Linked DNA regions of Homo sapiens. The protein of the gene in region 1 purifies or fractionates together with the protein of each later gene. This does not show direct contact. Each region holds a gene or a part of one and is shown in the gene's direction. Other genes may lie near its edges.

Region 1 (2,907 bases):
AGCTGTGACTGTGTGTAGCTAGATGCAGCTATATGGAGAATCACAGATGAACTATAATAATCGGGAAAAGATTGATACTTAATAAATGCCTTTGGAAAAACTGTTTAGAGAAAAAATGAATTTAGATTAATACTTCACACTGGAATTTCAAATGTTTTAATAAGCTAAGCCAAAATAAGTAAATGTTATAAGAATATAACTACCTCAGCTGTCCAAAGCTGGTTTTGGTTTCATCATGGAAGCAAGAGGAAATTAATGACAGGATTAACCACAACTTAAAAAAATGGATGTGCATTGAAAATTAAGACAAATACATGAAATGGGGAAATCGTTTACACTCTGAGATAAGTATCTATAATTATTAAATGAGTTTAGTACTCGTCAGGAACTATTAAATTTAAATATTAATATCCTTTCAATTCTTAGCAAATAAGATGAATAGTTGACAAAATGGAATACAAATATGAAACATTAATAAAGAACCACAACTTGAATAGTAGATTTCACCTCAGACTTAAACAGGCGGCTGTGTAATTGATTGACAGTGGAAAAATAGTCCACTTACGTGTTATTCCTGCTGTAAATATTTTTCTGGAGTATTATCCAGCGATAAGCAGCAAAAGCTATAAAAGCTGATAATACTTTTTGATATGATCGTTCCATTGTTTGCAATATATTTTTATTATACAGAAGTAACTCTCAAAAGAGGATTTTTCTTTTGCAAAATGTGCTAAATGTAATAGAAAAAGAAAGACAAAGTAGTATGTTGGTATAAAAACCATCTCATTAAGAACTATAGCAGGTCTCTGTATTACCTCGTAAAAAAAAGTATATTAATAAAATGAGAAGGAAAAAAGGCAGAACACAGAAGCATATGTGTAATGATAATATTAATTATGCTTAAGGATCAAAGAGTCCATAAAACAGATTAATGGTTTCCAGAGGTTAAGGATGGTTGGGGAAGGAACAGAGAGATGGATATGACTGTCAAGGGTGGCACGAGGGAGATCTTCGTGGTGATGAGTATTCTGTATCTTGATTGAGTGATAGTTAACAGGAACTTAGGTGATAAAATGACAGAGATCTATACACAGGCATTATCTCATGGTGAGCTTCCTGGTTTTGACTTTGTTATATTCTAATTATGTCAGATGTAACCATGGCAGGAAACTGGGTGAAGAGCACACAGTACTTTTCAATATGATCTCTGTGTCTTTCTATAAATCTATCATTTAAAAAAAAAAAGTTGGTTTTTTAAGTTTCTAAAATCTTATAAAATCGTTGGCATACTCAGGTTAAAGGGATATTTTGGGGTGTTCAGTTTTGTTTTGCTTTTCGTCTTGTGATTTTGTTTTTTCCATGTTAAAGTTGGTTGAACATACAGTTATTTTAAGTGCCTGTGTATTCTTCATAATTTATGGAATCAATAGATTTTGCTGTGGATTTTCTGCCACCTTGTTACTTCTTTTATTTTTTTTTCTTCTTAGTATGTGCCAAGAGTTGTAACCTCTGCACAACAGAAAGCAGGAAGAACTATTACAGCCCGGATCACAGGAAGATGTGATTTTGCTTCAAAAAATAGAATTAGCAGCAGTTTAGCTATAATGGGAGTTTCTCCTCCCATGAGCTCAGTTGTTGTGGAAAAACATCATCCAGTCACAGTGGTGAGTCCACATTTGATGACCTTTTGTCAAAAAGTCTTTTTCCTGAGAGTTCATAGACTAGTAAACACTTACATAACATGTTGAGAAGATAAAAATTTATGATGACTGGTACTTGTTCTGCCTTTTCCTGTTACAGTTTTTTTTTTTTTTTTAATATATATACTTGTTTTTCTCAAACCTGCTATAAATCTACGTTTCTGCTGTTGGGAAATTAATTTCAGAAACATCGTTTCTTCCAAACTGTAAAAATTATAAAATACTAAAAGTAATCCAGTGTGTTTGTGGTCAAAAGAGTAAAATATGTAAATGCTTTATTATCAGTTTAAAAAGAGACAAAAATTGTTCACTCACTAGCTGCTCATGTAGCAGATATTTGATTACAAGAAAACTCCCCTACATTTATAGTTTTTAATTTTTGGTCCTTTTTTAAAAAAAGTCTTCCCCTTTTTTCAGTACAATTGTCAGCATGTTTTTAGTTTAACAAAATTCAACTTGCAGTAAATGCATGTGATATAAAGAAGGTGCATTGAATTTGAAGCAAAAATTTTAAAACCCGAGTTAGTGCTTCAGCTTTGCTACTTGTTGGCTTTGTGATATATACAAATCAAGTAAAATATTTGAGCCTCCACTTTCTCTTCTGTAAAATGGGGTTAATAAAAATAGTTAGCTCCTTGGGTTATTGTTAGGATTCAAGATTAAATGAGATAATGTGAAAATTAAACGAGATGTATTAAGGCATTTTATAAACTATAAAACCATAAGCAAATTTAACTTACTGAAAGTTACTAGAAAAAGATACATGAGATATCTCTGAATTATTTCCTACAAATGTGTACGAATCAACAATTATCTCAAAAAGTATAATAAGAGTGATAAGAACATCCCTAAAGAAAAACAAGGATTTATTTATTTATTTATTTATTTATTTTTTATTTATTTTTTTTTTTGAGACAGAGTTTCTCTCTTGTCTCCCAGGCTAGATAGAGTGCAATGGCGCAATGTTGGCGCACTGCAATCTCCGCCCCCTGGGTTCAAACAATTCTCCTGCCTCAGCCTCCCGAGTAGCTGGGATTACAGGCACCCGCCACCACCCCCAGCTGATTTCAGGGACTGATTTTAAAAGAGAATGCCCTCTATAAATTCTCAGCATCGGACAACGTTCCTGTGTACTTTCTAAGTATTAGCAAAAAAAAAGTATATGGAATGATTTTAAATCCTTTTTTCCCGAGTACTAGCTGGGCAC
Region 2 (3,500 bases), on another chromosome or scaffold:
CTATATTATCAAATCAATTATACTGAGGATGCTTCCCTATTTTAAAATTGGTGGATATAACACATGTGATCAATTTGACCTAATACAGTGCTTTAAAGAACAGCTTCAAGGAGTGGTGATAATTAATGTGTTCCTCCTCAAGCCCCTCCCCCATTATCCAGCCCTCTCTCCTCACTCCTTTCATTCCCTGAGCAAAGGTGAGTTTAAAGCAGGCAGATCTCTAGAGTAACCAAATTATGAAATAACTAACAAGGAAGGAGAAATAGCACCTTAAAGAATTTGATGTGGGAAAAACCTGCCTCTGCTTCACTGCTTCTAAGTTTCTTGTGTTCCTAGACAAAGGAGAATGAGGGTTTCCTTTGTACAAGACACTAGTTCTCTCAAATAGCTGCTGTTGCCCAAGTTGTCAGGCAAAGTGATTGGGACCAGTTACTTATAAAAGACAGTGTCCATATTGTTGCTGCATCTGAGTCTCAAGGTTCAAGTTCGACTTCCTTCCTTTCTTTCTTTCTTTCTTTCTTTCTTTCTTTCTTTCTTTCTTTCTTTCTTTCTTTCTTTCTCTTTTCTTTCTTTCTTTCTTCCTTTCTTTCTTTCACAGAGTTTCGCTCTTGTTGCCCAGGCTGGAGTGCAATGGCATGATCTTGGCTCACCACAACCTCTGCCTCCTGCCTCAGCCTCCCAAGTAGCTGAGATTACAGGCATGTGCCACCATGCCTGGCTAATTTTGTATTTTTAGTAGAGGTGGGGTTTCTCCATGTTAGTCAGGCTGGCCTTGAACTCCCGACCTCAGGATCCACCCGCCTTGGCCTCCCAAAGTGTTGGGATTACAGGTGTGAGCCACTGTGCCTGGCCGAGATCTTTCTACATAGCTGACCTTGAAAACCAATGCCCAGGAAGCTTAGATTATTTCATCATGTGTTCAATGGACAGGCAGTGGTTAATCCTAGGCCCTTCCTGACCATCAAAGGACTGGCCATCCTGGAGCATGTCTTAAAATAAAGGAGAGTCACGGCAACTTTGAAGGGTTTGAAGCTAGGTCGAGGGAGCTGTCCAACAGAGTAATTGTTAGGGTGTCTGTCTTTTGTCACTGTAAAATCCACATCTCAGTCAAATTTCAGGGATTTCTCTGTAACAACTTTCACAGACAAAGCACCCTGTATCACCCAATATGTCCTCATTTCCATGAACTGTGATATTCTAAAGACCACAATAGACATTAGGAAAGAGTACTGAACCAAGTGACATTGTATTCAGACCAAGTATTAGAATATTCTTGTCTCTGATATAAGAGAGGCGTTATGCACAAAATTTCCCCAAAATCCATTTTTTACATGTTGATTTTTCTCCCTAGATATGTGTGTGTGTGTGTGTGTGTGTGTGTGTGTGTGTGCGTATTGATGTATCACGAGGGGCTGGTGATAATCTCTGTTCAACATAGGTAGGCAATAAATGTAACTTTGAAAAGACTGCAGCTTTCTATTCCCTTGATTACCTTTGAGTCATATTAGGTTGAACTCCTCTTATCTGTCACTCCTGGGTGCAGTAGTACTTCTTGGTGAATTCCTGGACTATGTGAAGTGTGAATAGGGCTCAGTTGCATTTGTTCACATGTCATGTACAACTACAAGGCACAGTGGACCTCAATACCCATTTAGTCCTTAGTACTGCCTATTCAGTCAAGAAAATTCAGGGCTATGTCTGGGATAGTGTTAAGAAATGTGATCAATTTTCCCACTGCCACAGAGCCAAATGGGAAAGGGCACTGGGATGAGGAGGATGAAGACAATGTGTCTTTTTCTCTCCTATTTTATATTTTAGAACTGCCCATCTGGGAATGGAGGACAGACTTCCCGGTGTGAAATATCAGGGTCATTGGGTTCTAGTCTTAGAGGCAGCAGATTATAATGAAAACAGAAGTCTTTGGACTCAGATTTGGTTGAAATTCAGGATCTGTCAGTGCTAGCCTGTAAGACCTTGAGGAAACCATCTAGATTCCCTAAGCCTCATTTTGTCATCTGTAAAGTGGGAATAATGGCTTTGAGGATTAAATAAGACAGTAGATATAAAGTGCATATTACTCTGCCTGGCACACAGTAGTGCTTAATAAAAGGTAGTTATTATTGTTTGAGTTATCCTAGTTTATAGCTGGTTAGCTACATGATCATAGGTTTGTTCTTATCATTAATGTGACTCATGTTAATTATTTTTAAAATAACTCTTTAAAAAAACAAACAACTGTATTAAGGTATAATTTGCATAACATGAAATTTACCCATTCAAGTGTACAATGATTTTTAGAAGATTTATCAAGTGGTGCAACCATCATCATAACATAATTTTGGACCATTTTCATTTCCTCAGAAAGAAACCCTATTCCAATTAGTTGTCACTGCATATTTTCTCCAATCTCTTCAGCTCTAGACAATGGTTAATCTACTTTCTGTCTCCACATATTTGCCTATTCTGCGCACTTCATATAAATTGAATCAAATACTATGTGGTCTTTTGTGCTTCTTTGACTTAGAATAATGTTTTCAAATTTTATCTATGTTGTTCCATGTATTGGCACTTCTTTCCTTTTTGTTGAAGGATGATATTTCATGTATATGTAGACCACCACATTTGTGTATCTCTTGTGAATAATATTTTTAACTGTAAAATGGGACTAGTAACACCTGCCTTCTCTATCCATTAGGGTGGTTGTAAGGTTAAACTTAGATAATAGATATGGAAACATATTGACAAGGTAAAATTATAGCTACAGGTACTATTATTATTAATGATGTGAAAATACTAATAATGGAAATAATAATAATAATGATTATGACAATGATTATGTTAGTAAGGGATTGTAATGGTCAGTGGTTTCCAAACCCGGCTGCCTTTCAAAATCTTTCAGAGCTTTAGAAAAATATTACATTCCTGGGCCACACCCAAGATCTATTGAATCAGAATCCCCAGGGCTAGGGCCCCAGTGTTTGTGTTTTTACAAATCTCCTCACATGACTTTTATGAGCACTTAGACTTGGGAAGTATTAGACTGGGTGATCTTGATGGTTCCATTCACCTAACTAAAGTGGTAGGAGTTTTGAGACGTGCAGAAATCTGTTTTAATTTTTTTCTTTTTACATCTTAAAGGAATAATAGAGCATAGAACACACTGTGTTTTCAAATGGCCACATTATTACATTTTTAGCCTAAAAATAAATGAAATTTAAAAATAATTGGTTAATAATCACTCTGGCCTTGTGACACTCCTTTGTCTAGTGCCTCTTGTCTACGGTTTTCTGCTAGATACAGAAAGTATCAAGGGAAGCATTTTGGATCAAAGGTTATTGATGTCAGTTTTCCCACAGTCCTTGGGTACACCGAGGGTCTTAGTGAAGCCATGTAGGATATGGTCCTCATTAGCTGTATCCCAAGGAGGTCAATGAATAAAATCCACTGGTGGGTTTTCCTTTTGTCATGTCTTTGTTTTTTTTATTATTTTTTTATTTTAT
Region 3 (3,500 bases), on another chromosome or scaffold:
TCAGCAATGTCCGAAAGAACACTGCCCTGGAGAAGAGCAGTGTGGGGCTGGGGGTGGGGAGAGGTGTTCCAGGCAGGAGACAGCTCCCCTTTGGAGTCTTAGCGGCCCTGGGACTTTGTCAGTCTTGATTTTAAATGACTTTGGCTAGTGTTTTCTACTTTTGCAAAAAATTACCCACACCTGGGCCCCCTCTACAAACTGATCACATTGGAATCTCTGGGGGTGGGGCCTGGGCACCTGCATAGGTAATACTAGGGGCTGAGCCACTTCGACTCTGGTCCTGGCATCCAAATGCTGAGGCTGTCCTGGGGCCCACCTTGCCCAGGATCTCCTGATGCCCTCTATTGTCAGGCACTGGCCTGCGACAAGCCTGGGAGTCTGGACTCTGCCTGCACCCTATCCCAGGCCCAGCCACTGACCCGTCTTTCCCATTTCCTTCAGCTAATGGAAGCCCTGAAGGAGCAGGAGGAGATCAACTTCCGGCTGAGGCAGTACATGGACAAGATTATCCTCGCCATCCTGGACCACAATCCCTCCATCCTCGAGATCAAACACTAAGGCACGGGGCTGGCTGCAGAGCAGCCTTAGGACCCTGGGACCAAGGGCAGACCCTGCCCAAGGATGCAGGCCTAAGCCGGGCCTCACACTCACACTGTAAATGTCTCTCTGGCCACCATGCGTTACGTGTACCCGTGTATATGTGGGGAGGCTGTGCACACGAGCGAGGGGTGAGTGGCCGTGGCTGTGGGCAGCATCCACACGGTTAGCCGTGCATGCACTTTGTGGCCCCTTTGCAAGGGGCAGAGGGTACTGGAAGTGGGAGGAGGCAAGGTCTGCTATCAGGAGTTACTGTAAAAACAAGAACTGGAAGCTCGTGTTTCCGGTACTGGGTAAAATGATTCTACCTCTGGGGATAAGGATTCACATTCGCTCTAGTACGATGGGCTCTTTCACCCCACTCCTAGTCCCCTTGGGAGTGGGAGCAAAATTGTGATCTTTCCTAGGAGTTTGAATGCCCCATATTTGTGTCCTCGCCAGCTCTTTGGCCACCTTTCAAGCCCCAGTGTTCAAGCTCAGAGAGGATGAAGGGGCATCTGGAGGGTCCATGAGATGGGGCCCTCACCAAATGCCTTGGCCACCGGCCAGCAGCCCTCTGTGATGTGTGTGCAGAGTGAACAGAGGACTCAGGTTTCATAGCAGCTAGTGCGGGGCATCCTCATCCTGTACCTATAGAGTTCGTGCACTCCCCCATCCATGCTACCTACCTCCCCGTTTCTGTTTCAGTTTTAAGACAATGAAGCAGCATTCACTGCGTCATTGTAACATGAAGGGATAAAAATGAAGGAGAAGGAGGGTTTGGGATGGGTGTCTAAGGCAGGAGTTGACATCGGGCAACCAAAGAAATGAGTTTTGGGGAGGAACACAACTCCCATCCCAGTCAGTTTCCTTCCCATGGCTGCATCTTAAGATGGATGCACGGAGAAACCGTCTGCCTGGCTCCCTGTCTTCATTCTCCACGCAGCCTGGTGATGGCAGGCCTGGGTTTGGATTTCAGAATCCTAGCTCCGGGCTCCACTCGTGTGGCAGCAAGACTGCTTCGTTCCAGCGTTTAGAAACACACCTGTATTTGATTCTCAGCCAGGGGAGCACTCGCTGCACTGGTGGGAGGCGGTTGGGAAAGTTGCAGGAAAACCTTAGTCTTCCATCCTTCTGACCCATGGTGGAAATTCACACCATGGATTTTTAATGGATCTTTGTTCTAGGCAGCTGGGAATAGACATGGTACTTACCTTAGAGTTTTCCAATTTATCTCAATTTTATATGGCTTGTGATTCATTTTCTTAATCCAAATATATATAAACGTGTGTGGTCTTATTCTTCCCCCTGCAGTTTCTTGCTTTCTTCAGCACATCTTATAGTATGAGAAGGAAGGTTTGGGCATGTTGGGAAGGGCGGTGGAGGGGGAGTTGCAGAAAGAGAGGGCAGTGAGGGTGAGGAGAGGGGATCTGGGGACTTGGGTGTGACACCTGCTTGACAGAGGCAGGGCTGTGGCCAGGACCAACCTTCAATTCCATTCCAATCAGCCTTTGCATTTGTTGGATCTCGTGGCTTCTTTTTAATCTTTTGTTGGGGATTAGTTTCATGCTGCACATAATGGGGTTGCACTGGTCTGACCCAGGACTTTGGAGCCACCCACACTGGGAAGACTAGGCTAGGCAGTCGGTCTTCTAGGAGTTTCTCAGCCCCTTAGGACGCGGGTCTCCTTGGGCTCCCCCAAGGGTTCTGCGAAGAGGCAGTGGAAGAAGGCATGAGGAGAGGGTCTCTTGAGAATTTGCCAATAGGAAGGAGTGGCCACGGCTGAAAGGAACAAGACAGATCCTGACATAGCTTTGGCCTGGGTGTTAGGTCAGAAGGAGTACTGGTGCGTGGGGGCCTTACCCCAGGGTTGAGTATTTTATCTGTAAAATGTTATCTGCCCTTTGGCTGCATTGGAATTTCAGAGAAGGCTGCAGAGGCCTGGGTTACACAGCCTGAGTCACAACGTGGGAAGGAATCTCTGCCACGGGAAAGGTGGGCGGAAGCAGCTGGCAGCCTGGGGCGTGCTTCAGGCTCCTCCCTCTAAGGGGCGCCATGGGAACAGGCTCCGGAGGGAGCCGGCGTCTGAAAGGCCCCCGGGACCTGCTGCAGTGCCAGAGGGGCCTCTGGAGCAGGCCTGGCTTTTAAATGGGGGGCTGAATTCCAGCTCACACACACCTCAAGTCCAACCTTACTTTCTTCAGCCAGAATACATTTCTTGTAAAACCTGGCTTGTTGCTTGGCTTTTAAAGATGGTGTATGTTTGTAAAAATATTCTTCTGGGCTCAAAAGCTAGCTTGAGGGGGCAGATGCCCCAGGTGTCCCAGCTCCACAGCCCCTGGCAGATCCCAGACCCCTTGGTGGCAGGTCCCAGAGCCTAGGTGGTAGGAGCTTGATCTTTGTTTCTGCCCTTACCCCTCAGTAGTGGGGCTGCGAGGTAGTAGACAGGATGCCCAGTTAAGTTTGAATTTCAGATAGAAAATAATTTTAGAATAAATATGTTCTATCTAATACATGGGACAGATGTTATTTTTAGAGATAGGATCTTGCTCTGTTGCCCAGGCTGGAGTGTAGTGGTATGATCATAGCTCACCACAACCTTGAACTCCCAGGCTCAAGCGATCCTCCCGCCTTAACTGCCTGAGTAGCTGGGACTACAGGCATGCACCACCACGCCCAGCTAATTTTTCTTATTTTTTGTAGAGACAGGGTCTCACTGTGTTGCCTCACTCGAGCTGCTGACCTCAAGTGATCCTCCCACCTCAGCCTGCCAAAGCACTGGGATTACAGGCATGAGCCACCATGCCTGGCCAGGACATATTTGAAATGGGGAGATTTTAAAAATTCTGATGATTAGACTGAATCCTCAGACGTTCTGGTTTGATTGTTGTGGGTGTAGCCCAGGCATGGGATTTTTTAAAGAG
Region 4 (2,498 bases), on another chromosome or scaffold:
CTATGACAGTGCGGGAAAGCAGCACTGAGAAACTTTTGATTGTTTTCAATTTCTTCTTTTATGTTCACACCACCACATTCCCATTCACTTTGATTTTCTACATGTAATTACCTTCTTTTGTTTATCATTAGATTTGATGGGGCCAAAGTTGAGATAGAATAGAGGGTGATGACGGTAAGAGCAAGTGTCCCATGAATGTGATTTCCTGGGTTCTCACTGTCTTTGCACCACGTCTAGGAAGAATCTTCTTGATAGCTCTCCCACACCATCAGTGGCCCTCATAACTGGAGTAGAGTTCCTGGTTGCTTTTCATAAGAGGGAGAGTTACTTTCTTTGTATCTCTGCAAGCAGAGATTTCTCTTTGGTTTTGAGGTTGAAGTGTCTTTGGCCCATTTGTAAGTCCCCATCCCTACCCTACACAAAGTAAAAGCAGAAGATAGATAAAAAATGATGTAATTGCAGCTGGTAGGATGTCTGGTGCCAATCCAGGAAGTGAGAGCCATTTCTTTTGTACCGGATTTAATGACTTTGAACTGTGCTGTAAATAAATAATACAGCTGGACCTTATACCTGTGTGTTGCTTCTGAAGCTCACTTCAACTCCGGCTGATGGAAATGCTGTGTGCACTGGGCTTAGCTGTTTTTGGAAAGTCCTTTAATTTTTTCTCTTCCACTTGGCAGCTTTTCTTAGTTCTGGGATGTTGGCCACTGTGGTACTGCCAGTAAGAAATCTGGCCTTTTTCTGCTCCATTTCTCTTTGTTTCTAAGGTCAGTTTTAATTTGTTTGAATTCTGCCAGTTTAGGAAAATGACTCTGTTTTGTCTTTTTAAATCTGAGCAAGCTTTATGCTGTAGTCACTAATTATATTTCAGTAAGAAGCCTTTAAAAATTGATGAATCAGCTATTCCAAAAGTAGAATATAGTAATATTCAGCTTTTAAATTTTTAAAATTTTATTTTCTGATAGTTGTTACTGCTGTCATTAAAACCAGAAGTGTTAGACACTAACAGGCAGGTGCACAAGAACTTTTCTGTATGACTTCCAAAAGACAAGCTGACTAATTCATGCAGGCAGCATATTTGACATTAATAAATGGCCAAGCCATTCCTATTTCCAAGGGGTTGGCTTCTTTCAAGCAGTTCTTACACTGAGACCTTTCTTCAGAGAGCTTTTCTAGGATAACAAATAGGGTTGGATCAAAACCTTTCAGGGACACAGAGAGACAGAGAGAGAGAGACTAACAGTTTCTACTCTGTTGAAAGATTTCTTCCTCCTTGTTTCTTTTCATTTTCTCTCAATAATTTTTTTTTCTTCACCCTGCCTTGGGAACATTTTCTGCTTTTAAAAAACTGTACCTTGAGCTTGATCATTTTTATGGCATTTTTTTTTTTTAAGGGCATATATAGAGTTCATTCTTGGGATGGAAAGCTGAAATATTTCCTTTACTTTCCCTGGCATCTGGGAGATACAGGAAAATCTTTGTCTTATTTTGGGAGCCTTCAGTTCTCATTGTAATGAGTTGTCTATCAAAGCATTTGGTAACTATTTTGTTTCAGCATCACAGAACAATCGATTTGGGTGGGAATTTAAGGGCCAAAACAATACTAGTTTTTATTCTTTGTCAACTAAGAAATTAAATAATGCAGGGTTTATGGGCTCAATAGAGGATATTCTTACAATTTATTTTACGATTTTAGGGTTTTTCCCTTGTGTAGAATCTTTAAAATACTTTGCCATTTTATTTGATGTTGATTATTTGGATGAGTTACATTATTCTGAAGAAACAAACTGCAAAAAATAGAATTTTTTGGCAAGCATAATTGTATCCTATTACTGTATGCATTTTAGGAATATAGATAGCAGCCTTAATTGAAGTGAGTATAATTATAATATGCTAAGGTTTAATTTTAACATGAAAAAGAATTGGAGTGTCAGATAAGCCTTATTATTTAAAGCATCCCTCTAATAAAACTGCACTTTTTACTGACAGGGAAAGAGAGACATGGAGACTTGAGTGCTTTCTATTTTTATTTTTTTCAGCTCCCAAGAGCTTAGAAAGAATTGGGTGCTTTTTATTTTCTGTTTTTGTTACTTTAACTGCCTGGAGTCAATGGGTAGAACTAAAGTAACTTAGGAGAACCTTCATAAGGAATCTGTAGCGCCAAGAGGTTATCCAGAGGAGCCAGTGTCTAAGCCAGCATAGTAGAGGGTGAAGGCCCCTGAGATATCCAGTTCAACTGCATCATTTTGTAAGGGATAGAATTGTAGCTTAGAGAGAAGGAACTTATCTACGGCCTCACAGCTCCTTTTTGGCAAAACTGGGGCAGAACTGGGGCTCCTTTTTGGCAAATTTTGTTTGCTTCATTTTACTGGTACAGTTTTATTTTTGTTTGGATTCAAGCAACAAAAGCCCACAAAACCAGCTTAAGGAAAAGAAATGTTTTGAAACTGCCAGATCAGCTCCAGGACTTGGGTTACCAGGAATCATGGGGAACTAGA
Region 5 (4,258 bases), on another chromosome or scaffold:
ATAACTATATTTTCCAAGTTTGTGCTTTAACTTTAATTTTCTTATATAGTCAATTTTTAATTAACATTTTTATTTTTAATGTTTTATGAAACTCTTCCAACAGCCTAAGTTAGGAAGATATATTTATATATTTTCTTATCAAAGTATAATATTTTGCTTTCGTATTTACATATGCACTTCACCTCGAGTTTATTTTTGTGTGTAACGCCGGGTAAAAAATTTTTCCTATGTGGATAGTCAATTATTCTGGCACCACAAGTTCATATTTACAAGGCTACTTGTCTATTTAATCATGCTCAAAACCAGCTCGGCCCTTTCATGTCTTTCATCACATCCTTTGTTGCTTACCTCTCACCACACCCTTCTACAGAAGCGTTATTTTCTTGTTAAACCAGACTATTCACTGCATTTACTCTTCTTGCAACATGCTAAAATTGTTCCTGTTGTCTCTACGAGTCACGCTTTCTGCCTTTTTTCCTTACTGAATTTAAACCTCTTGTGAAAAAGACTGTCCAATTTACGTTTTCACCCTTAATACTGAGCATTGATGTAGCAGGTTTTCAAATATTCTTGTTTTATGCTGAATTTCAGTTGGCCCTTATAGATGGAAACTTTCACTGAGTACAAGCTATATATCCATGTATTTAGGAACAATCAACAGTTTTAACGAATAGGAACCAGTCATCTTTTCTGCCCCGGTGGATAGGCTTAGTGGTGGTCGGTGGATGGCGCTGACCGCGGTTGATCAGAGGAAGCTGACGCCGTTTGCAGGCGTGGCCTGGGCGTGCCCGCTTCAAAGTAGACGCCCGGAGTTGGCCCAGTTCTGACCCTAGTGATGCGCCTGTGCGTGTGTTCCTATCGCCGTCCCGTCTTCACTTCCTACAGATGCCGCGACCCCCCAAATAGCAAGTGTGGACATTCACATTCAGGGGCACAGGCTGTCCGTACAGCGAACGTTGTCACCATTCCCGGAGATAGGGCCCCGACCTTCAAGGGGGCGGTGCGGTTGGCGCGCAGTTCTCAGGCGCCTTCTAGAATCCCCTGCCAGCCTCCCCGCTGCCTGGTTACCAAACTCGGCCGGGGACACCCAACCTCCCCTCTCGAGGACCTGGGTTGGCCAGCCCAGCTTTGTACGGGTGACTGAAGTCCACATCGACGTAACAGTTGAAAGGGAAGGACGCGGAGACCACCCGGTACCCGCCCCAGGCGTTTCCAGAGTCTCCGCTTAGGCGGCCCGTGGGGGTCGGGGTCGCGGTCGCGGTCGCGGACCGGGGACAGAGCAATGGGGCGGGCGCGCAGCGCCGGCTGCACTCCCAGAGCCTCCCACCGCCGCCCCACGGCCGCCTAGCGCGCGCCGGGACTGCATTTCCCATAGGCCCACGCTGCGGAGCACCGCCCACCCGAGTCTCACGCGAGTGCGCTGCCGCGAGGTGTCCCTGCCGCAGCCCCCGCCCGCCCGCAGAGCTTTTGAAAGGCGGCGGGAGGCGGCGAGCGCCATGGCCAGTCCGGGCTGCCTGCTGTGCGTGCTGGGCCTGCTACTCTGCGGGGCGGCGAGCCTCGAGCTGTCTAGACCCCACGGCGACACCGCCAAGAAGCCCATCATCGGTAAGGAGGCTGTGCGGGGCCGCAGCAGACGGGGAGGAGCTGGGTGTTGGCGCTGGGCGCCTCCCGCCGCCGCGCTCCAGCTGGCGCGTCCCGCCGGGAAAAACCCCCAGATGTGCTTCGCTTTTGGTGCAAGGAGGAACCCGGGCTGGGCACCATTTAGGTCGTACTGAAATGTACCTGGTTGAGGTACCTCGTTCATTCCTTTAGACTCATATGACTCTTAAAGGTGGGAGGGAGGAGGGTGCACCATGAAGAATCCTGCGGATTTTCTTTTTTTGTACACAGCTAGGAATTTCTACTAAAATAAAACATTTCCTTTTCGCACATAGTTGGGAAGTTTTACTCATTTACATCTACAAATTCTGTACATGCATTGCATTCATCAAAATGTATTGATGGCGTATTTAAAATACCAGTGCATTGTAATAGAAAATCAAGAAATTAAGGTATAACTTGGATTTTGTCATGTTCAGTAGCAGAGGACAACAGTGGCTGATATCCTAATGTGAGTTCTATTTGGTGTTAAAATGCAGCCCACAATTTTTCGTTTCCAACATATTTGTGTTTTAAAGAGGTAGTAAAATCAGTCTGTGTTACCAAAACACACATTTGAGACAGGCCCAAGGAAAGCTACCTAGGAGAAATCATCCTGGGGTTAAAATTTGCCCAAAGAAATTTGTGTGTGGACATTAAGATTAGTTTTATTTTGGCTGTAGGATTATGCCTTTCATACTATTTTTTTCTATGAATATTATCACTGTATTCTGTAACTAAACAGAAAGTAGATGAATGTTTTTTCATATAGGTAGTGCCCAGTTTTCAAATGGGTTGCTTACTAATATTTGGAACTTATTTCATAGCTGTTTAACATGGTGATTTGATTCTCCACGAATTAACTCAAGCTGTAATTAATGTAACAGGTTGCATATTGTGTGTCCAGAGAAGAGAAAAAAAAGCAGAGGGGATTCTTCCCCTTTCCTAGAATCAGGGGTAGCCCTGCGTCAAATATTTAAAAAAGGGACTTTGCTTTTGGTCACTGAGATCAGCACAACATCGTTAACTGAGTACCGACTATGTACACAATCTTGCTCTGGGAAGTGCAAAGGATTGAAAGATGACAAGCCACAAAAGTTGTGAGATGGCCTTAAATTATTGGTGGAATTTTGGTCATATTTTGAGGGACAGGGAGAACAGCTTGAGCTCTTTTCCCAGGGATGGGAAAAGTGAATATGCGTGGGCCCAGGGGAAGGGGAGATGTTGGTGGAACTCACTCTGATGTACTTCTCTTTCTGGTACCCTTGTGCTCCCATGATGCCCCATGTCTCCTTTGTGGTACCTCACCCCATGTACCCTGTACCACTCCATTTCCTATGACACTCCTAGTTCTTCGTTCCCTAGCCAAACTTTGTTATTCCTTAGTGAAGATGATCTTACCTACCAGTAAGGAGAAAAAGTTTTACTGAACAAATTTTGGCGTTTGACATGTTAATCTGAATACCTGATGAATGCCAATTGTAAGAAGCTGGGAATACAAAAGTGAGTAATACAGACAACAGCTCTTCCTATCAGGTGGCCTACAGAGACACTGAAAGTGTTCCAAATGCTGAAGTGCTGAATAGGAGTAGGCACAGGTACTCACCCGACAGACGTGTTTTGATGTATACTGGTTGCTATACTCTGCTGGGGCTGGGTTTCACTGGTAAAAGGAGGCCAGAGAGATGGGTGGGGCAGAGCATACGGGTCTTACAGAGTTTATTAAAGTTTAGGGACCCACTGAGGTAGTTAAACAAAGTGGTGACACCTGCTTGCTGATCTATCGCTACCTGATGTCCTTTCCTATTGCTTTCTGCTTTCACTCACCTGGCTCTAATAATATGGATTCCTTGCAACGTGACAGGCACAAATCTGACTCCTGGCCTTTGCACTTGCTATTCCTTTGTCCTGGATTGCTCTTTTCCCAGATATATGAATGTGGTTTACTCTGTCACCTCTCTGAAGTCCTGGCTCAAATGTCATGTTTTACCTTCTCAGGGAGGACTTGCCTGGCCACCGTGTTGAAGAGACTGTCCTTTCCTACATAGATGGGCTCTCCTTCCCCACCGTCTTTCTCTCCTTAGTGCTTACGACCAGCCATCACTCTATATATTATGCCTTTTTGTCTTGTTTATTGTTTGTCCTCTTTCCCCTCCCTGCTACACCCTCGAATTAATGCACACAGGGCAGGGGCTTTTGTTTGGTTCACTCATAGTCATGTGTCCCCAGCAGCTAGTTTGTTGCCTGGCATGAGGTATGATTCAACAGTATATATTGAATGACTGTAGGAATAGGAATGGTGATATGATCCGATTTGCTTCTACATGGGGAGCTGCTTGGAGCTTGGGGGGGTTTCTTAAGAAAAGATATAACAAGACCTTCTAAGAGTCTATTATGATAGTGTGGTGGGGAGAGGGTAGATATTGATAGCTTGGGCTAAGGTAATGTTGGAGAGGTGTGGATGGAAGATGTTTTCACTCCTTTGCTTCGTTGTCAGGGAATCAGTGTGTCTGTGAGTATGTGTGGGAAAGGAGTGACAGCCTTGTAAATTTAAGGATCTATATTCTTTAGATGGATTCTAGGTCTACAGTTGTGTGAAGGCTGCAAGTGCTATTGTAAG
Region 6 (4,129 bases), on another chromosome or scaffold:
CCCATTACACCACCACGTTCGGCTAATTTTTTTTTTTTTTTTTTTTTTGTATTTTTAATAGAGACGGAGTTTCACCATGTTGGCCAGGCTGGTCTCGAACTCCTGGCCTCAAGTGATCCTCCCGCCTTTGCCTCCCAGAGTGCTGAGATTACAGGCGTGAGCCACCGCGCCTGGGCCAGATACGTATTTTCAGCACTGGTTGTGCAAAACTCACTCCCCACCTCATCTTAAGAACTTAATGAACCTTTTGGTAAAACGCCAATACCAGCATAAAACAAATTTCTTCAGGATACAAATATTTTCATAATTTGTATTAACTCAACCTAAACTTTACCAGCCTGAACTGCTTCTTCAAGGCTTGACTAATACACTGTTAGGGAGTATTTTAAGCAGCCTCCACCCAAGTGCTTACCTTGTAGCTCTATTTATCTGCCTTAGGCATTTACTGGACTCCTTTCAGATTCTTTCCCTCGCTAATGTTTTCCGGTATCATCTGATAACTGAATAGAAAATGCTGTTCTGAATCACTACACCTCACTATCAACCATATCACAAATAAATTATGTTATATATTATATATAAATATTATAATGGGCTATTTAAACTAAGCCAGCCGTCTTACCATGTGCTCATGTGGGATTTCCTGTTTCAATGTTGAATAATAATATATTTTAAAGTTAGCAAAGCCATTTCACCTGCAGTCGTTGATTTCTTCAAAATCTGAGCATTTAAATCCATTGCCAATGTTTGCTTAAAGAACACTGTTTTCTTAACGAGTCTTCCAAATCGGTCCTTACAGGAAGAACCTCTGAATGCTATACGCATATATGGACGGCTGCGTGTCCCTACAAAGTCAGCCTGTTACTTCCACTGGAGAAACAAAACTCTTGAGAATCGCTGAGCTGTAAAAATGTTAGAAAGCCGGTGTCCCAGGCGCCCTGAGAAAGCCGGGAGAGGGCGGTGGCTGCCCACAGGCCGCCTCCAGCCCCGCGCGAGGCCGAGGCCTCAGCGCGCCCCCCGCCCCCGCGGCGCCTAGCGGCCCCGCCGCAGGGCAGGCCTGGCCGGGCCTCCCCGGGCTGCGGCGGCGCCCCCTGCAGGCCGCGGCGGGCAGAGCGGGGGGAAGGAACCCGAGCCGGGCTGCCACCGTGTCCCAACCGGTGCCGCCGCCGGAGCTTCTCCGGGCCCCGAGTCCTCGCCGAACGCCCTCCTCGCCGCCCGCCGCGTCCCGGCGCCCTCCGGAGCCGCCGAGCCGCCCGCGCACACCTGAAGCGGCCGGGCCAGGCCCTGCCTCGATCCTCAGCTCGTCCTCCCCGCCCCGCACCGGCCTTCACTCTGGAGCGGCCCCGGCAGCCGCAGCAGGGGCGGCGGCGGCGGATCGAGGAGCTCTCCAGGTCGTCCCGGGAGAGGCTGCTGCAGTCCCGGGACAGGATGTTCTCCAAGTTCACCTCCATCCTGCAGCACGCCGTGGAGGCGGTAAGGCCGCGGGCTGCGGGCGCACGGCAGGCCGGGGATGGCGGCGGCCTACGCTCCCCGGCGGCCTCGGGGACAAGCCGGGCGGCCTTGGCCCGGCCCTCGGCGGCCCTGTCCCCGGTTGGGGTGAGGCCCCAGGCGGGCGCCCTGGGCGGCCGCCGGGTCGTGGGGGCGCCCGGGGCCTCGGGCCTGGCTCTGCGGGGGTCCCGTCGGTCCCTGGCTGCCCCAGGCCGGCAGTCCCTGCCCTCCTCCAGGAGCCGGGGCGGGGGTGCCGGGGAGGACCTGGCCGCCCAACGCCGCTCGGTGGTCGCCTCATTCCTCTGATGGGGCCGGGGGTTCGGGGAGCACCTGGCGGGGTCGCAGAGAGCTCCCCCGGGCTCCCTTAACGTTAACCTTCTCCGGAAAAAAAGTGGTCAGCGTTGAGCAAGACAAAAGAAACGAGCAAGCACCGCTTGGGCTTGGTTCTGTTTTGTTTTGGTTTTCGGGGGTAGAGGTGGGAGAGGCATGGTCTCGCTGTGGGGCGTCCCTGGCGAGGGAGCCGCCGACCAGCCCCCGGGTTGCTGGCTTTTGCTTTCTTGGGCCTGGAGGCCGAACTCAGCTGAACCTTATGTATTGATCTGAAATAGGAGTTTGGAGGGTCCAGTCGAGTTTGCTTTCGACAGCTTCCAAGCTCACCGAGCCCAGAGACCATCTGTTTCCTTTCTTGTCTAGTTCTCTTCCTGGACACTCTTCGTTTATCCTGCAATTGTACTCTCCTTTGAGGGTTTTAGACACCAGCATAGAGACAGTATTCAAGTATCCTAGTAGACTAATAAGTGAAAAGAAACTAAAAAGAAAATGCCTTGTCACTGTTCTAGTAAGAATGCTAGTTGCTTCACTTGTTTACTTTATTCTGGGAGAACTGCCCAAATTGAAAAATGCATTCTGTGCAGAAACAATTACTTTGCTAATTTTTAACATGACATTCTCTTCCTATGTTCATATTATGTGATAGGACACTTTAAAATGTACACTTTAAAAATGTCAGATACAACAATGATTTTTTATGGGCAGGCAAAAATGGAGTTTTTGCCTTCAGTAATAAAAACAAACTTTAGTACAATTGTTATTTAAGTGATACATGAGAAGCGTTAAAAAATTTAGCTCTAGGGCAAGCTCTTGGGAAAATGTATCAAACAGGAAAAACAGGGTTTCATAAATGTAGAGCAGTATTACACGGAGGGAAATGACAGTGGTAGACTTCAAGACAACTTTTAGTTTTTACTTGCTTATACACACTCTACTTTTGTTGAAAGAATTTAACTGCAGTTTATTAAAACATTTAAATTTTGTTTTCTTTAAAAATACCAAGAATCATTTAATTTTATTTATTTATTTATTTATTTATTTTTTGAGACCGAATCTCATTCTGTCACCCAGGTTGGAGTGCAGGGGTGTGATCTCAGGTCACTGCAACCTCCGCCTCCCGGATTCAAGCGATTCTCCTGCCTCAGCCTCCCTAGTAGCTGGGATTACAGGCACCCGCCACCACACACGGCTAATTTTTTTTTTTTTTTTTAGTAGAGATGGGGTTTCACCATGTTAGCCAGGCTGCTCTCGAACTCCTGACCTCAAGTGATCGCCCGCCTTGGCCTCCCAAAGTGCTGGGATTACAGGTGTGAGCCACCACACCCGGCCCGAATCATTTTAACCTTGAATATATGAAATACTTGGGAACACTTAATGAGATACTTGGTAATCAAAATTTACTATATTGCAGTCAGCTGTCTTATCCGTAGGCTCTGCACCTGTGATTTAACCAAACTCAAGTAAAAAAATATTTGAGGGGGAAAAAAATTCTGCAGAGTTCCAAAAAGCAAAACTTGAATTTGCCATATTCAAGTACTGCCTTGAATCCATGTGAATGAAGTGATGTGTAGGCATTGTATTAGGTATTAGAAGCAATCTAGAGATGATTTAAAGAATACAGGTATGCATAGGTTATATGAAAATATGCCATTTTATAACAGGGACTTGAACATCCTCAGATCTTAGGGGTAGGAAGAGATGTCCTGGAACTAGTCCCCTACAGATACCAACTATATTTATATCCTTTACCCATCAGGCTAGTATTTACAGAAATAAGTACTTAGAAAAAGAAAGACGGCTTTCCTGCTCTCCTAGTAAAGGCTCATTTTTATCCGGAGGCCTGTGTTTTCTTGTCCTCGTTATCTTTTTATAATTGTATATATTAGCATCTGCCAAATTATCTGGCTCCTGCTCTGTAATATCCTTAGCCTACTTTGCTGAGGTTAGTGAGAAAAAGTTAGAGTGGCTTGTGTTCACCTAGTCCTGAAATTAATGCATTGCATTTAGAAGTGTAATGTTTTCATTTGCTTAGACCTAATGTTTTCATTTGTGGCACCACCCATCTTATCTTGATAGGAGGTTAAATCTCATGAAAAATGTTTGATGTTCTATACTAACCTTTTTTTCCCCCCTTTTAACATTCTCTCTTGGGAATGAACTCATGTGCAATGATGAATAAGCCATCCTTGTGTATTTGGATAGTTTTTTCGTAGCCCAAGGTTAGTTTCCAGTTATTCAGTTCTGTTTATTAATTTGCTTGATATTTTCCTCTATGAACCAATCTTACCATTCCTCAGTTCATTTCATTAGC
Region 7 (3,500 bases), on another chromosome or scaffold:
AAACAAAAAAGATGGAAAACAACCACTAATGAACCATGGGGAAAAAAGACAATAGTTGGGTTTGAAAGAAATCTTAACTGTTTTTTTCCCCTACTCTTCTAAGATTGAAGAATTAGGGTCTGAAGGAAAAGTAGAAGAAGCCCAGGGGATGATGAAATTAGTTGAGCAATTAAAAGAAGAGAGAGAACTGCTAAGGTCCACAACGTCGGTGAGTAAACCTTATTTCACATTATCTCATCTGTCTGTTAACAGTTAGTAGGAACTCATTTTTATTTGAGAACCTTTGAAAACTGATGTTCCAAACTTAGAGTCAGCACAATTTGTAGCCCACAAGGTCTGTGGCATCTACTAAGCTCTGCCTTTGTGCAGTATGCAAGCAACTTTATATAGTACAAGAAACAAATGGGTGTGGTTGTATCCCAATAAAATGTTAGCAAAAGGCCTCTCTGGCTTGCCAATCACTGCCTTAAACCATAAATTTTCATATGAGCCTGGTTTTATTTTCATTTTTGTTGTAATAAATTACTCAGTACATACTTACATCTTTGTTAAAAATTAATACACCCTTAAATATCTAATTCTTTTAATTGGAGAATAGAATATACTTGTTTCAGATACTATTGATTGCAGAATGTAATTGGTCATTGGTTCCTCCATATTGAATAGGATATGTTCAGATTATAGTCAATGTGCTTAGTTCCTTAATTAGTTTTGTATATGGACATTATTCCTTGAACCTAAGCAAGGAATGTATTCATACTAAAATAGGTGGCTTTCTGAAAGGTGATTTAAATTTTGTAAGGTAATGTGGGTGTTGAACATTGAACAGTGGGTCTCAACATTTCTTCTGGATGATTCAGTAAGTTAGTTGCTGTTACCTTAAACATCCCTCTCTAAAAGTTGACCACTTGTAGTCCAATATTACTGATTTGGGGAAATGGAAAAGAGCAATTCACACACATTAGAAATCTTTTCTAAATGTTGAGTACTTTCCTGGGATTTGTTTCTCTTCCTCAGATGTTCTTAAAATAACTGATTTATCATTTTAGACAATTGAAAGCTTTGCTGCACAAGAAAAACAAATGGAAGTTTGTGAAGTATGTGGAGCCTTTTTAATAGTAGGAGATGCCCAGTCCCGGGTAGATGACCATTTGATGGGAAAACAACACATGGGCTATGCCAAAATTAAAGCTACTGTAGAAGAATTAAAAGTAAGTTTTTTTGTTTGTTTTGAGGCAGATTCTTGCTCTGTCACCTAGAGTGCAGTGACGCGATCTCAGCTCACTGCCACCTCCACCTCCCAGGTTTAAGCAATTCTCATGCCTCAGCCTCCTGAGTAGCTGGGAGTACAGGCATGTGCCACCAGGCCTGGCTAATTTTTGTTTGTTTGTTTGTTTGTTTATTTTTGAGACAGTCTCGCTTTGTTACCCAGGCTGAAGTACAGTGGCGTGATCTCGGCTCACCGCAACCTCCACCTCTGGGGTTCAAGCAATTCTCATGCCTCAGCTTCCTGAGTAGCTGGGATTACAGGCACACACTACCACGCCCGGCTGATTTTTGTATTTTTTTTAATAGAGACGGGGTTTTTTCCTGTTGGCCAGGCTGGTCTTGAACTCCTGCCTCAGGTGATCCGTCCTCCTCAGCCTCCCAAAGTGCTGAGCCACTGCGCTCGGCCAGCGTAAATTTCTTCTAAAGATACATTTTAGCTATTAAAAAAATCTATTTTAGCTATAGCTACAGCTTTTAGCTATCAGTAGCTATAGATAAAAATAACTATATTCTAATATGGCTTAAATGGAGATATGACCCTCTCATTGATATTTTCCTATGTGTAATTATTTTTGAAGCATTGTGAGTTCTGTGAAATTTTGCTATTTATTGAACTATGAAAGCACTTGATTTTCTTAACTCTTGAGTGCCAGAAATTTGGGAAGAATATTCCTGAGGATTAGACAAATAATGATACCTTGTGTATATACATGGTGTTGGAATGTCTACATTTCCCTTAAGGGCATCAATTCCATAAGTTGGTCTACAGATAACTTCACATTAGTTGACCATTGTTTAACAATGCTTTAAAGTTACATTTGCATAAGAATCCAACTTGATTTTTCTAGGAAAAGTTAAGGAAAAGAACCGAAGAACCTGATCGTGATGAGCGTCTAAAAAAGGAGAAGCAAGAAAGAGAAGAAAGAGAAAAAGAACGGGAGAGAGAAAGGGAAGAAAGAGAAAGGAAAAGACGAAGGGAAGAGGAAGAAAGAGAAAAAGAAAGGGCTCGTGACAGAGAAAGAAGAAAGAGAAGTCGTTCACGAAGTAGACACTCAAGCCGAACATCAGACAGAAGATGCAGCAGGTCTCGGGACCACAAAAGGTCACGAAGTAGAGAAAGAAGGCGGAGCAGGTATATATAAAACACCCTAAGACTGTCCAGCTCATAATGGGTGTGCAATAACAATAATAACTACTAGTATTATTCCTTGGAATGGTACTTGGGAAGCTCTTAAGCATCTTTAAGTGATAGGATGGGTTGCGAGAGCGGAATCAGTGAATAAAATAGTTCCATCTTCGGGGCAACTTCTGTGCCATTTCCCACCTGTCTAGGAAATTTCACCCAACCTTTTTACAAAGTTAGAGTACCTGATGGTCTCTTAAGTGCTTGTCTCACTGATTCCGAGAAATAAAATATGAAATCAGCCATACTGTTTTAATTATAATTACAAATTGAAGAAGAGTCTTAAAGAGCACAACGATAACCATCTTAGCACTATTGGAGATGAATTTAGAAAGATTTTCAATAATTTTTAGTTCTTAAGATTTCTAATGTAAATATGTTTTAGAGGGTAAGTTTTGCCTAGTCTTGTTAATTAATAGCATCTACTCCAAGGCCTTTACTTATTGTAATACTGGCTGAAGTTGCCTTTTGGTTTTAAATTATTAAGAAGTAGAGATCGACGAAGAAGCAGAAGCCATGATCGATCAGAAAGAAAACACAGATCTCGAAGTCGGGATCGAAGAAGATCAAAAAGCCGGGATCGAAAGTCATATAAGCACAGGAGCAAAAGTCGGGACAGAGAACAAGATAGAAAATCCAAGGAGAAAGGTTAGTTTATATGAGAATTCAGTTCATTAAGAAACTTTTCACACCCTAATCGCCCCACTCACTTTTCTCCAGACACAGGCAAAGATCCATTTCATACATACTCCTTTTCACTTTGAGGAATGCCATTCAGTAGGAGACAGGCATTCTTTCCCCCTCTCCTACTTAGATTTGTGAAAATGACAGTTTATCTGGTGTTTTCTTAGATGTTAAAAACATCTTTCAGTTGATAAACCTGAAGGTTTTTAATGTAGCTTCTTTTAAGTGTTATATTACCTTTCGGGGTTATTAGGTGTAGGATTTATTATATTACCTTGGTTATTGGCTCCTTTTTTTTTTACACACTGCAGTGTTTCATAATACGTCTTATAAAGTGAGTGTACATTGTTGCATTAATCTTCAT

The links.
Region 2: the proteins of POC5 (region 1) and DCX purify together in Homo sapiens (co-immunoprecipitation; one large-scale study listed by IntAct). This does not show direct contact.
Region 3: the proteins of POC5 (region 1) and RAB11FIP4 purify together in Homo sapiens (co-immunoprecipitation; one large-scale study listed by IntAct). This does not show direct contact.
Region 4: the proteins of POC5 (region 1) and PRCP purify together in Homo sapiens (co-immunoprecipitation; one large-scale study listed by IntAct). This does not show direct contact.
Region 5: the proteins of POC5 (region 1) and GGH purify together in Homo sapiens (co-immunoprecipitation; one large-scale study listed by IntAct). This does not show direct contact.
Region 6: the proteins of POC5 (region 1) and FHIP2A purify together in Homo sapiens (affinity purification with mass spectrometry; 2 studies listed by BioGRID and IntAct, with this or other methods). This does not show direct contact.
Region 7: the proteins of POC5 (region 1) and LUC7L3 purify together in Homo sapiens (co-immunoprecipitation; one large-scale study listed by IntAct). This does not show direct contact.

What each region holds. Positions count from the first base shown.
Region 1 is NC_000005.10:75,676,531-75,679,437, reverse strand, and holds part of POC5 (centrosomal protein POC5), read left to right. Parts: intron 1-1,487; coding exon 1,488-1,664; intron 1,665-2,907. UniProt on the Homo sapiens protein: Essential for the assembly of the distal half of centrioles, required for centriole elongation. Acts as a negative regulator of centriole elongation.
Region 2 is NC_000023.11:111,405,693-111,409,192, reverse strand, and holds part of DCX (neuronal migration protein doublecortin), read left to right. Parts: intron 1-3,500. UniProt on the Homo sapiens protein: Microtubule-associated protein required for initial steps of neuronal dispersion and cortex lamination during cerebral cortex development. May act by competing with the putative neuronal protein kinase DCLK1 in binding to a target protein.
Region 3 is NC_000017.11:31,531,175-31,534,674, forward strand, and holds part of RAB11FIP4 (rab11 family-interacting protein 4), read left to right. Parts: intron 1-441; coding exon 442-558; 3' UTR 559-3,500. UniProt on the Homo sapiens protein: Acts as a regulator of endocytic traffic by participating in membrane delivery. Required for the abscission step in cytokinesis, possibly by acting as an 'address tag' delivering recycling endosome membranes to the cleavage furrow during late cytokinesis.
Region 4 is NC_000011.10:82,822,436-82,824,933, reverse strand, and holds the end of PRCP (lysosomal Pro-X carboxypeptidase isoform 1 preproprotein), read left to right. Parts: coding exon 1-28; 3' UTR 29-1,998; downstream 1,999-2,498. UniProt on the Homo sapiens protein: Cleaves C-terminal amino acids linked to proline in peptides such as angiotensin II, III and des-Arg9-bradykinin. This cleavage occurs at acidic pH, but enzymatic activity is retained with some substrates at neutral pH.
Region 5 is NC_000008.11:63,036,007-63,040,264, reverse strand, and holds the start of GGH (gamma-glutamyl hydrolase isoform 1 precursor), read left to right. Parts: upstream 1-1,458; 5' UTR 1,459-1,496; coding exon 1,497-1,605; intron 1,606-4,258. UniProt on the Homo sapiens protein: Hydrolyzes the polyglutamate sidechains of pteroylpolyglutamates. Progressively removes gamma-glutamyl residues from pteroylpoly-gamma-glutamate to yield pteroyl-alpha-glutamate (folic acid) and free glutamate.
Region 6 is NC_000010.11:114,820,651-114,824,779, forward strand, and holds the start of FHIP2A (FHF complex subunit HOOK interacting protein 2A), read left to right. Parts: upstream 1-1,428; coding exon 1,429-1,473; exon of another isoform or gene 1,474-2,298; intron 2,299-4,129. Other genes in the region: translation initiation factor IF-2-like, read right to left, coding at 846-1,451. UniProt on the Homo sapiens protein: Required for proper functioning of the nervous system.
Region 7 is NC_000017.11:50,743,603-50,747,102, forward strand, and holds part of LUC7L3 (luc7-like protein 3), read left to right. Parts: intron 1-103; coding exon 104-208; intron 209-1,049; coding exon 1,050-1,211; intron 1,212-2,117; coding exon 2,118-2,401; intron 2,402-2,939; coding exon 2,940-3,100; intron 3,101-3,500. UniProt on the Homo sapiens protein: Binds cAMP regulatory element DNA sequence. May play a role in RNA splicing.